Linked DNA regions of Homo sapiens. The protein of the gene in region 3 interacts with the protein of the main gene of each other region in a pairwise test. Each region holds a gene or a part of one and is shown on either strand. Other genes may lie near its edges. The genes, in order: ELN, CETN3 and CKMT2.

Region 1 (3,653 bases), on a different chromosome or scaffold from region 3:
AATGGTTGGAGGGAGGGATAGATAGATGGGTGATGTTGAAAATTTTGAGTAAATGGGGGTATGTAGGGGCCACTTTGGAGGCAGGCTGTCAATAGTAATGGGAATGGAGAGGCTAGGGGCCTGGAGGCCACCAGGTGGGGACTCCAGGGGCACTCACCGAACTTTGCTGCTGCTTTAGCTGCCGCTGCTGCTGCTGCCTGGGGGCCAACCCCTGGGGGAAGGAAGCAGAGGGGAGAGACCTTGAAACAGTGCTCCTGTATCTCCAGAGCCCACTTGTTCCCAGCCCCAAGAGAGCCAATCCACTGACATGTGGGTATACATGGGAGCTTCAGAGTAGGCAGAGGCTGATGGAGCTGCCCCACTCCTCCCCCAGGATCCTGCTCCAGGTTTGGACCAGGGTCTGGATGCAGGGTGGGCTGCTGCTTTCAGGAGGGAACCTCACCCACCCCAGGGCTCTGGAGCCTGGAAGATCAGTGCTCCCTTGGCTGGAAGTGACGTGAGGCTTTCCTTACCTGTCCCTGTTGGGTAACCAGCCTTGCCCGCTGCACCAGCCACTCCTCCGGGCCCATAGCCTGCAAAACAGAGAGGCTTGATGGTCATCTGTGCAGACATCACCACTGCTGCCCTCCCCCTCCCCCTGCTCTGCCCTCGGGGCCCAAGCTGTCCTGAGTCTGCACCTGTCACCCCCAGCCAGAGTGAAAACAAATACAAACACATGTATGGAGTTGTTATGTCCATTTTACAGATGAGAACACAGAGGCTCAAAGAAGCAACACAGCTCACTTAAGGTCTCATTATTGATAGGTGGGAGGGCAGGGATGGAGACCCATGCTGAGTCCAAATTCCATGCCCTTTCCTTCTGAGATTCCCACTCCAAGACCCCAACCCTGCCCCAGCGAGGTGCTCTCCTGGCCCAGGGCTGGAAGCACAGCACCCTTGCTAGGACCCTGGAGAGGGAAAGAGCTGGAAGCCCACAGTCTAGAAGGGTCTCACTCACCATAGGGCAGTTTCCCTGTGGTGTAGGGCAGTCCATAGCCACCTGGAGAGAGGACAGAGCAAACTCAGGGGCTGCCCCATGCCTTGCTGGGCTCCCACCAACCTGGGTGGACAGATCTACCCCCACAGGTGCTAAAGCTTGAGACCTCCCACATCAGGGTCCTGAGCTGCTCCCAGGAGAGCAAAGGCGCTGGGTGAAGGAGGGAGAGGACACCTCTGCCCCCGAGGCCCATGGAACACCCATCCCCCTACAAATTCAAGCCCCATCATGGCCCTGGAGTCTGAGTATTTTCCTTACACCCCCTCCTCAGTGGAAAGCATCTTATTGTCTAAGCTGATTGCAGAGGTAGGGGCGGGAGCACGAGTGGGTGGATGTTAGAGGGATCTTTCCAATGAACCGTGTTCCTTTCCACCAGCCTAATAGCTTCAGATCGGGACTATGGGTCTCTGTGCATGAGCGTGTGTGTGTGAGTTCAATACCTGCAGATGACTTTCCCATGCTCTCCTTGGCTGGTGACCATACAGGGGCTTCAACACCCCTTCCCTGCCACCAGAGACACCTGTACCCAGGCTGACTTCTGTGCAGGGAGGTGCAGTGAGTGGTACATTTTTTTTTTCTTCTTTTTCTTTTTTTGGAGGAGAGTCTCACTCTGTTACCCAGGCTGGAGTGCAGTAGCGCGATCTCAGTTCACTGCAACCTCTGCCTTCTGGGTTCAAGAGATTCTCCTGCCTCAGCCTCCCCAGTAGCTGGGATTATAGGCCTATGCCACCACACCTGGCTAATTTTTGTATCTTTAGTAGGGACGGGGTTTTGCCATGTTGGCCAGGCTAGTCTTGAACTCCTGACCTCAAGTGATCTGCCCGCCTTAGCCTCCCAAAGTGCTGGGATTACAGGTGTGAACCACCACACCCGGCCGAGTGGTGCATCTTGAACCGTCCCTCTGACTTACCAGGCAGCTTGGGGGCCTTGATGGGATACCCCAGTGGGACTCCAGGTTGCGGTCCCCCAAAGGGTCCAACTCCTGTGGGAATAAAGAGAGCAAGTTCAGGTCCCAGCACCCCCTTCCAAACCCTCCGCCACCCACTCCACTTTCTGCTCAGACAGAAGGAGCTTGCTACAGCATCCAGAAACCATCCTGCTTCGAGGGACTCCCTGAATCTCCATCATGGGTCAGTTGAGAAATTCCCAGTGACAGGCCACTTCCTCCAGGAAGCTACGGGATTCTCTCCCTCCTGGGGCCTGGGCCCCAGTTTGGGCCTGCAGCCCTTGGCACAGGCTGGAGGGTTTTCTGGACTCCTTTGAATTTTGGGCTGCTATGCCAGTGGGGGGAGCAGGCCTGGGATGGGTGCCACTTTGTGCTACAGCCACTGCAAGACCTGGCTCTGCAGGCGTGGGAGAAATTGGGCAGGCTTGGATGGGATCTTGGGTGCCCAACCCCTCCCAACGCCAGAGCCTCTGCCTGGCTGGCCACCCTGCTTCTCCCACCAGCCTTGCCTCACCTGGGATTCCAGCAAAAGCTCCACCTACACCTGTAATGATAAAAAGCTGTCACTACAGCCCTGGAACTGTGGACACTGGGCCAGACAGCACCAAGGGGCCAGGAGGCCCAAGGAATGGCCAGTTCTTCCCAGACCAGTCATCGCATGCTGCGCTCACATGAACTCTGGGGTTTCTTTTTTCGGAGATGGAGTTTCGCTCTTGTCGCCCAGGCTGGGGTGGAATGGGGTGATCTCAACTCACCGCAACCTCTGCCTCCCAGGTTCTGGCGATTCTCCCGCCTCAGCCTCCCAAGTAGCTGGGATTACAGGTGCAGGCCACCACGCCCAGCTAATTTTTGTATTATTAGTAGAGACAGGGCTTCACCGTGTTGGTCAGGCTGACCTCAGGTGATCCGCCCACCTCGGCCTCCCAAAGTGCTGGGATTACAGGCATGAGCCACTGCATCTGGCCCTCTTTTCTTTCTTTCTTATTTTGCGGGGGAACGGGGTCTCTGTTGCCCAGGCTGGAGTGCAGTGGTGTGATCATAGCTCACGACAACCTTGATCTCCTGGGCTCAAGAGATCCTCCTGTCTTAGCCTCCTGAATAGTTGGGATCATAGGTGTGTGTGACCATGTCCGGCTAATTTTTTAATCATGTTTTTGTAGAGATAAGGTCTTGCTATGTTGCCCAGGCTGGTCTTTAACTCCTGGGCTCAAGCGATCCTCCCAGCTCACCCTCCCAAAATACTGGGATTACAGGTGTGAGCCAGTGTGCCCAGCCACACTCTGAGGTTTTTCAGCACCAGGCTGCCCAGGGCTGGAACATAAAAAGTGTCACCCAGAGGGCCCTGAGCCAGTCCAGGATCCCACCCCATTTCACACCCGGGGCCAGAAGGTGGTTGGAGAGTCCCTGCCATCAGCCCTCTGTCCAGACAGCTGCATACCTGGAGCCTTGGGCTTAACTCCTGCTCCAGTGGGAACTCCAGGGAGCACCCCCACACCGGGGAACCGAGCTCCTGCCGGGGGACAAAGCAGTGAGTGTAGGAAGGCAGGCCTTGCAGGCCCTGCTGGGAACCCCTCCCCTCCTCGGGTCCCCCAGCTGACCTCCCTTGGGACTGACTGTCAGTGACAGGCACGGCTCACGGGGTGGGTGGAGAAAGGACCTGTTTAGTGCTGA
Region 2 (3,653 bases), 9.1 Mb from region 3:
CTGCCAAACTTCATCCAGATATATCTGTGGAACAGTGTCCTTGGGTAGTTCATAAAACTAGGACTCAAATGTTATGATTTAGAATCATCTGTCCCAAAGTATAAAACATATTAATCTGTGGTCAGTGATTAGTTAAAAATAATCAACAAAAGGGGTAATACATAGTTCCTGAATGATTCCCAAACAGTAATACATTTTTATTTGACACCTGGTACTCTCCATAGGTAGCCTTAAGATAGCTAAGATACATGTTGACCCTGTCAAAAGGTTAATCTTTTAGTGTCAAAGCTGAAGTTTAGCCACATCTATTTATTCTAGAAGGAACCCAGTATTTCTGCTCTGTTAATAACATAGAACAGATGGGGTGTCAGGAAAAAGTGGAGGTGGCATGGGATTCTGGTCCCAACTGCCAATAAAAATCACAATTTTTGGCCGGGCGCGGTGGCTCACGCCTGTAATCCCAGCACTTTGGGAGGCCGAGGCGGGCGGATCACGAGGTCAGGAGATCGAGACCATCCCGGCTAAAACGGTGAAACCCCGTCTCTACTAAAAATACAAAAAATTAGCCGGGCGTAGTGGCGGGCGCCTGTAGTCCCAGCTACTTGGGAGGCTGAGGCAGGAGAATGGCGTGAACCCGGGAGGCGGAGCTTGCAGTGAGCCGAGATCCCGCCACTGCACTCCAGCCTGGGCGACAGAGCGAGACTCTGTCTCAAAAGAAAAAAAAAAAAAAAAAAAAAAAAATCACAATTTTTAAATTGTGTTCATTTAAGGTGAAATAACATATTTTGTAAAATTATTAGTGATGATACAGTGCTTACAATAGCCTTTATGAAAAAAGTCAATAAAAAATATACACAAAGTCTATTTTATGTCCCAGTGATGCATATATGATTATTTCGAGCCCCTGAAACAAAGACAATTTTTTAAAGTAATAATAATAGCAAATGCTTAGTAGCACTTACAACATGCTAGGCCCTTTTCTAGGTACTTCACATATCATTAACTTAATCCTTAGAAGAATCTCATGAGAGAATACAATGATCCCCACTTTATAGTTGAAAATGAGGCATGGGGTATTAAAAAGACCAAGTTCCAGAGCTGTAAAGTGGCAAAACCAAGGTATGAACCAAGGGAATCTGGTTCCAAGTGCTAAACCACTATACTGTACTAAACATACCTGGATTATAGCTCCTTCCTAATAGTACCATTTCCACTATATACAAACACCTTGTTTCTACAAATAAACAATCTAAGGTAAAACTAGGAATACTACGATCATAAACTTCAGGAGAGTGTCCATTCTGGGAGAACAAAAGGTGGCTCTCTCCCTTTCCTCAAATAATTAATTCTACAAATTAGAGGAAAAAAGGAAAATGTCCCCAATGGACAAGTTGCCTCTCTAAACAGTCATATATTAGTTCATAAGTTGAGGATCTTCTGTGCTGTGTTTTTTTTCTCTTAGGTTCATCATTTATTTTCCATCTCAACTGCTTATGACTTGAGCTTTTGGATTTAAAAAACTGACTAATGACATGAATCTAAATTTTCTCTGCGTCTACTAATTGCCATTTCTTTTTGCTTCCCCTATTGCTTCTTGATTAATATTTAAAATAAGGGGTTTGTGTATATAGCAGAATTTGTTTCCAAATTTTTAAAATATCTTAAAATACTTATATGATGTGCTTATATCGTGACCCATTGGTTTAGAGAAAAAAAAAAAAAGAAATAAACCTGAATATTTACATATTTTGTAGATAATATTCTAGACAATACATTTAAGTTATAATAGCAACATCCTTGCCTTCCGGACTCTTCTATTTTGAAAAAGCCTGGTCTATATATGCTATAAATAATTCACTAAAATCAACTATAAAAAAATTTAGCCATATTAAGCCTATGACACATTATCTTCAGTTGGTGGTACTAGGATGTTTTCTCCTGCTTCCAGTATGCCCACTGCCTCCTTTACTACTACCCTCTAAACAGATGACTTTATCCACTGAGATCAAGGTCATCCAGAGGATGTAGCCTCTCATAAACTTTGTCAACCTGAAGTCGTGCATTTCATCTACAGCCAAAGATACCAACTACTACCAGTTCCCTCTTCTCCCACTTAGCCAACAAAAATCACATACCAGAAAGGTCTTGGGAAACATTTTCCAAACAGCAGGATATCAAATTTTCTGTTTTATTAAGCAAAAATAATTTTTTGATCACCCTTCAAGTTTTATCACATAATATAAATACAAACAACTTGGAAAAGCATCTTTCTATAAAAAGCTACACAATAGTTCCTTGGTTAGAATCTTCACAACAAAACAAAAGACAAAACTATAAATCTCAGAGCAAAGCCATATTTTTTCTTTGAAAAAAAAACCAACAAAACAAAACTGAGTAAGAGTCACATTATACACCAGTGTTCTATAAGAAAATTCCATAACCTAGAGAATTTAAAATTTAAAAAGTGATATTAATCAGACAATTTCCTAACAGCTGCTGATTACAAAGACTATTAAAATACACACCAACTTCATTAAAATCTTCAAAGGTGATTTTCCCTGTGGCTTCTCTGTCATAATCTTTAAGAATCTTCAGTACATCAGCTTTTTTTACATCAAACCCCAAGGCTCTCATTGCCACCTTTTGGATTAAAAAGGAAAAGCAAATTATAAAGCACTCTTTACAAAAGAATTTCTAATTATTAAGTTTTTACATCTTAAGAGATGACAACACATTAATAAAATATAACTTTTTTGCATGTTTTACCTCTTTAAAATAGCAGTGATAGTGTAATTGTTCTTCACTACTGAAATTAAGTATGCATAAGTTTTTTCATTTATAAATTGCATTTTTTATATGACAAAGTAACCAACAAGTGTTTACAGATTTTACTATATAAAATGCACTAACTTATTGCACAGATAATTTGATTGTTATTTGTTCTGAAGGGATTAACAATCAAAATGAGAAAAAGGCGTGGCATAAATATTAAACAGTTACATGATAGAAGAGATAAAACATTAAAACAAGAATTATCATCAGTCTTTCCATGATTAGTTACCAGGTAAATGATAGGGCTAAGGACCCTGAGTTTAGAGAAAAAAGAGATTTTGTTACTAATAATAAGGAAGGAGACATATTACTGACTAGAGAAGTCTTATTTGGAAAGATTCAAACTGTTCCTTGAAGGATAGATGAAGAGGAGCAGTAGGGTATTTGGGAAGGATGACTGGTATTAAAAGAAACACTGAAACGAATAGGTTCGAAGGACAATGAACAGAGCAGTTTACCTCACCTGAATTAGAAAAGTTCAGGTGAGGTAAACTGCTCACCTGAATTAGGAGGTGAATTCCACCTTAATTAGAAGAGTTCAGGAGGAAGAAAGCAGTTAGCAAATGAAAAAAGTAGTTGGTGGCAAAAGTGTAGAGAACATTCAGTAGAAAGCAAAGGAATCTGAACTTTAAGTAGTATACAATGAGGAGTTATGGTTTATGAGCAATGAACAATTTATGAGCAATGGTGAAAGAATTTTTAAACTATCTAAATTCAGTGGTAGTGTACAAGGTGAACTAGTAAGAAATCATTTAGGAAGCTCCAGGTATGAAATAAGGTCCCAAACCAAGATAGTCAATGGTTACAAATGGAACAGACAT
Region 3 (3,653 bases):
TTATTGTGTCTCTGCCAGGTTTTGGTATCAGGATGATGCTGGCCTCATACAATGAGTTAGGGAGGAGTCCCTCTTTTTCTATTGTTTGGAATAGTTTCAGAAGGACTGGTACCAGCTCCTCTTTGTACCTCTGGTAGAATTCAGCTGTGCATCTGTCTGGTCCTAGACTTTTTTTGGTTGGTAGGCTATTAATTACTGCCTTAATTTCAGAACTTGTTTTTGGTCTATTCAGAGATTTGACTTCTTCCTGGTTTAGTCTTGGGAGGGTGTATGTGTCCAGGAATTTATCCATTTCTTCTAGATTTTCTAGTATATTTGCACAGAGGTGTTTATAGTATTCTCTGATGGTAGTTTGTATTTCTGTACGATCAGTGGTGATAGCCCCTTTATCACTTTTTATTGTGTCTGTTTGATTCTTCTCTCTTTTTAGCCTGACTAGTGGTCTATTTTGTTAATCTTTTCAAAAAACCCGCTCCTGGATTCACTGATTTTTTGAAGGTTTTTTTGTGTCTTTGTGTCTCTATCTCCTTCAGTTCTGCTCTGATCTTAGTTATTTCTTGTCTTCTGCTAGCTTTTGAATTTGTTTGCTTTCACTTCTCTAGCTCTTTTAATTGTGATGTTAGGGTGTCGATTTTAGATCTTTCCTGCTTTCTCCTGTGGGCATTTGCTGCTATAAATTTCCCTCTAAACACTGCTTTAGCTGTGTCCCAGAGATTCTGGTACATTGTGTCTTTGTTCTCATTGGTTTCAAAGAACTTATTTATTTCTGCCTTTATTTCGTTATTTACCCAGTAGTCATTCAGGAGCAGGTTGTTCAATTTCCATGTATTCGTGCGGTTTTGAGTGAGTTTCTTAATCTTGAGTTCTAATTTGATTGCACTGTGGTCTGAGAGACTGTTATGATATCCGTTCTTTTGCATTTGCTGAGGAGTGTTTTACTTCCAATTGTGGGGTCGATTTTACAATAAGTGCGATGTGATGCTGAGAAGAATGTACATATTCTGTTGATTTTGGGTGGATAGTTCTATAGATGTGTATGAGGTCCACTTGGTCCAGAGCCGAGTTCAAGTCCTGCATATCCTTGTTAATTTTGTCTGGTTGATCTAATATTGACAATGGGGTGTTAAAGTCTCTCACTGTTATTGTGTGGGAGTCTAAGTCTCATTGTAGGTCTCTAAGAAGAGTGCTCTAAGACAGCGTTCCTCCAAGTGTAGTCCCTTGACCAACAACCCCGGCATCACCTGGAAACTTGTTAGAAATGTGAATTCTGCAGGTGGGGCCTAGCAACTTGTGTTTTACCAAGTCCTTCAGGTGATCTCTTGCATGCTCAAGTTTGAGAACTGCTTGAACTAGGAGAGATGGAGAAAGGAGATAGAAAGAACCAGAGAGAGCAGAGCCTACCTATCCTGATTTGTTACATGAGGAAAAATGTAAAGGCCTTATTCTTGAAGCTACCATCTTTTTCTTACAGCCCCTGAACCTTTTATTCTAACTAATACAAATGTCTTTGGAGGCAAACTTAATTTTTTTCTTATTTTTATATTGTAGATAGAGAAAGTAAGGGTTAAGGAATGGGCAGTGATGTTTTCTTCCTCCACAAAGCAGTCGCATCTGAGCTGATCCTGGCCCATCAGGGCCACTGGGCACATAACAGTACCTTGCTGAGCTTTGGGATCCTAACGTGGACACCAGCTCGTAGTCCTGTTCCAAGGTTCGAAGGACAGGTCAAAATGTATCCTAGGCGCTCATTCCACATGAACTCCCAGCCTCGTTCTTGGATTAACCGTTCTACCTACAAGTAGAACCACAGTGAACAAATGACAGCATTTTCCAACATCCATTCATTCAGCACATCCCTAACACCAGAGAGAGAGATGTGTACCCTCCTCTGGCATGAATGAAATTAAGGTAAATTTATAGTACTCCTTTAAGAGAAAATAATACCTCTCCTACCAGACTATTAAAATGGCCCAATTAAGTTAAATGAACCATGTAAAGCAGTGGTCCCCAACCATTTTTGCATCAGGGACCGGTGTCTTGAAAGATAATGAATGTTTTAAGACAATTCTTCCACAGATCGTAGGGAGGGAATATTTTGGGATGAAACTGTTGTTCCACCTCAGATCATCAGGCATTAGTTTCTCATAAGGAGCACGCAACCTAGATCCCTCACATGCGCAGTTCACAATAGGGTTTGTGCTTCTATGAGAATCTCATGCCTCTGCTGATCTGACAGGAGGCAGAACTCAGGTAGTAATGCTGGCTTACCCACCACTCACCTCCTGCTGTGCGGCCCAGTTCCTAACAGGCCACAGACCTGTACCAGGTCCGTGGCCCCGGGGTTGAGGACCCCTGATGTAAAGCAGTCAACATAGTACCTGGCCTGTACTAAGCACTTGATGAATGTTAGTTGGTGGCATTTTTCATGCCAAGAGAGTAGGAGAATACAGGAATTATCAGCAGGTGAGTCTATGGTCAGGCTACATTCTCTGTCATCTGTATGCTTAGAATAGCTCAGAGCGATATTAAATAAATCAAAAAACAAGTAATGATCCACAGACTTCCCCAAACCACAGTGGAATGGGGAAGTAAGCGTAATAGCTTTCTAATAACAAGAGAAAGTCACTTATTTTCTGAAGCACTACCTTGGAAGTTGCACTCCAAAAAATGCCTTGAGGCTGGGCGTGGTGGCTCATCCAAAAAATGCCTTGAGGCTGGGCGTGGTGGCTCATGCCTGTAATCCCAGCACTTTGAGAGGCTGAGGCCAGCAGATCACCTGTGGTCAGGAGTTCGAGGCTAGTCTGGCCAACATGGTGAAACACCCCTCTCTACTAAAAATACAAAAATTAGCCAGGTGTGGTGGTGGCACCTGTAATCCCAGCTACTCTAGAGGCTGAGGCGGGATAATCACTTGAACCTGGGAGGCGGCAGTTGCTTTGATTTCTAGAAAAAAATTAGCTCCATCTTGGAAGTTACCATAGTGTCTTCTTTCAAGAACAAACAATACGGTAATTTTATTTTAATAAATATCCAGAAATCTCAGATAACATCTTACTTCTTTTAGTCCACGACAGAATCGCTCAAATACTCGTTTCATATTGCCTCCTTTTTCCATTGAGATTACCCTGGTGTGATCCTCCTCATTTATCCAGATGAGAAATGTCTTATCATAATTATGCCTAATGAAGAGAGAAATATGGTACTGAGTGTTAATTGCATTTGTTTCAACACATGAAAATTCCCATTACCTCCCTAGCTTGATTGCTTCATTTCACCTTCCTCATTTCCTAGATGGCCCTAATCTCTTAACTGTGCCTGAACAAGTATGACAAAATAATGTTACTTTGACAGAAGGAAGATTAAGACCAACTCTCACCCTAAAAGATGTCATGTTTTTACCAAACAAGAATATAATTAATTCCCCCTAGGTCCTCTGACTAGGATGACAGTAATTCAACTATATAACATTTGGCTTCGACATTAACAAGAATGTTTTGTCTCCTAAAAGATTCAACCAAAATCTTGTGCTCTAAAAAGCGGGTGGGGGTTACCTTCCACCCAAGATGTTGAAGGTACACAACATTTCACACATTTGCTCCATGGATCCTGCCTGTCCATCCCTACAGAGCAGCTGCACATGAACATTTTTTATT

Evidence for each region.
Region 1: the proteins of CKMT2 (region 3) and ELN interact in a two-hybrid assay, tested with the Homo sapiens proteins (one large-scale study listed by BioGRID and IntAct).
Region 2: the proteins of CKMT2 (region 3) and CETN3 interact in binary tests that used the Homo sapiens proteins (3 or more experiments, as listed by UniProt).

Annotation. Positions count from the first base shown.
Region 1 is NC_000007.14:74,045,061-74,048,713, reverse strand, and holds part of ELN (elastin isoform a precursor), read right to left. Parts: intron 3,493-3,653; coding exon 3,421-3,492; intron 2,527-3,420; coding exon 2,497-2,526; intron 2,019-2,496; coding exon 1,947-2,018; intron 1,040-1,946; coding exon 998-1,039; intron 573-997; coding exon 513-572; intron 212-512; coding exon 158-211; intron 1-157. UniProt on the Homo sapiens protein: Major structural protein of tissues such as aorta and nuchal ligament, which must expand rapidly and recover completely.
Region 2 is NC_000005.10:90,403,160-90,406,812, forward strand, and holds part of CETN3 (centrin-3), read right to left. Parts: intron 2,641-3,653; coding exon 2,526-2,640; intron 1-2,525. UniProt on the Homo sapiens protein: Plays a fundamental role in microtubule-organizing center structure and function. As a component of the TREX-2 complex, involved in the export of mRNAs to the cytoplasm through the nuclear pores.
Region 3 is NC_000005.10:81,257,259-81,260,911, reverse strand, and holds part of CKMT2 (creatine kinase S-type, mitochondrial precursor), read right to left. Parts: intron 3,180-3,653; coding exon 3,056-3,179; intron 1,793-3,055; coding exon 1,658-1,792; intron 1-1,657. UniProt on the Homo sapiens protein: Reversibly catalyzes the transfer of phosphate between ATP and various phosphogens (e.g. creatine phosphate).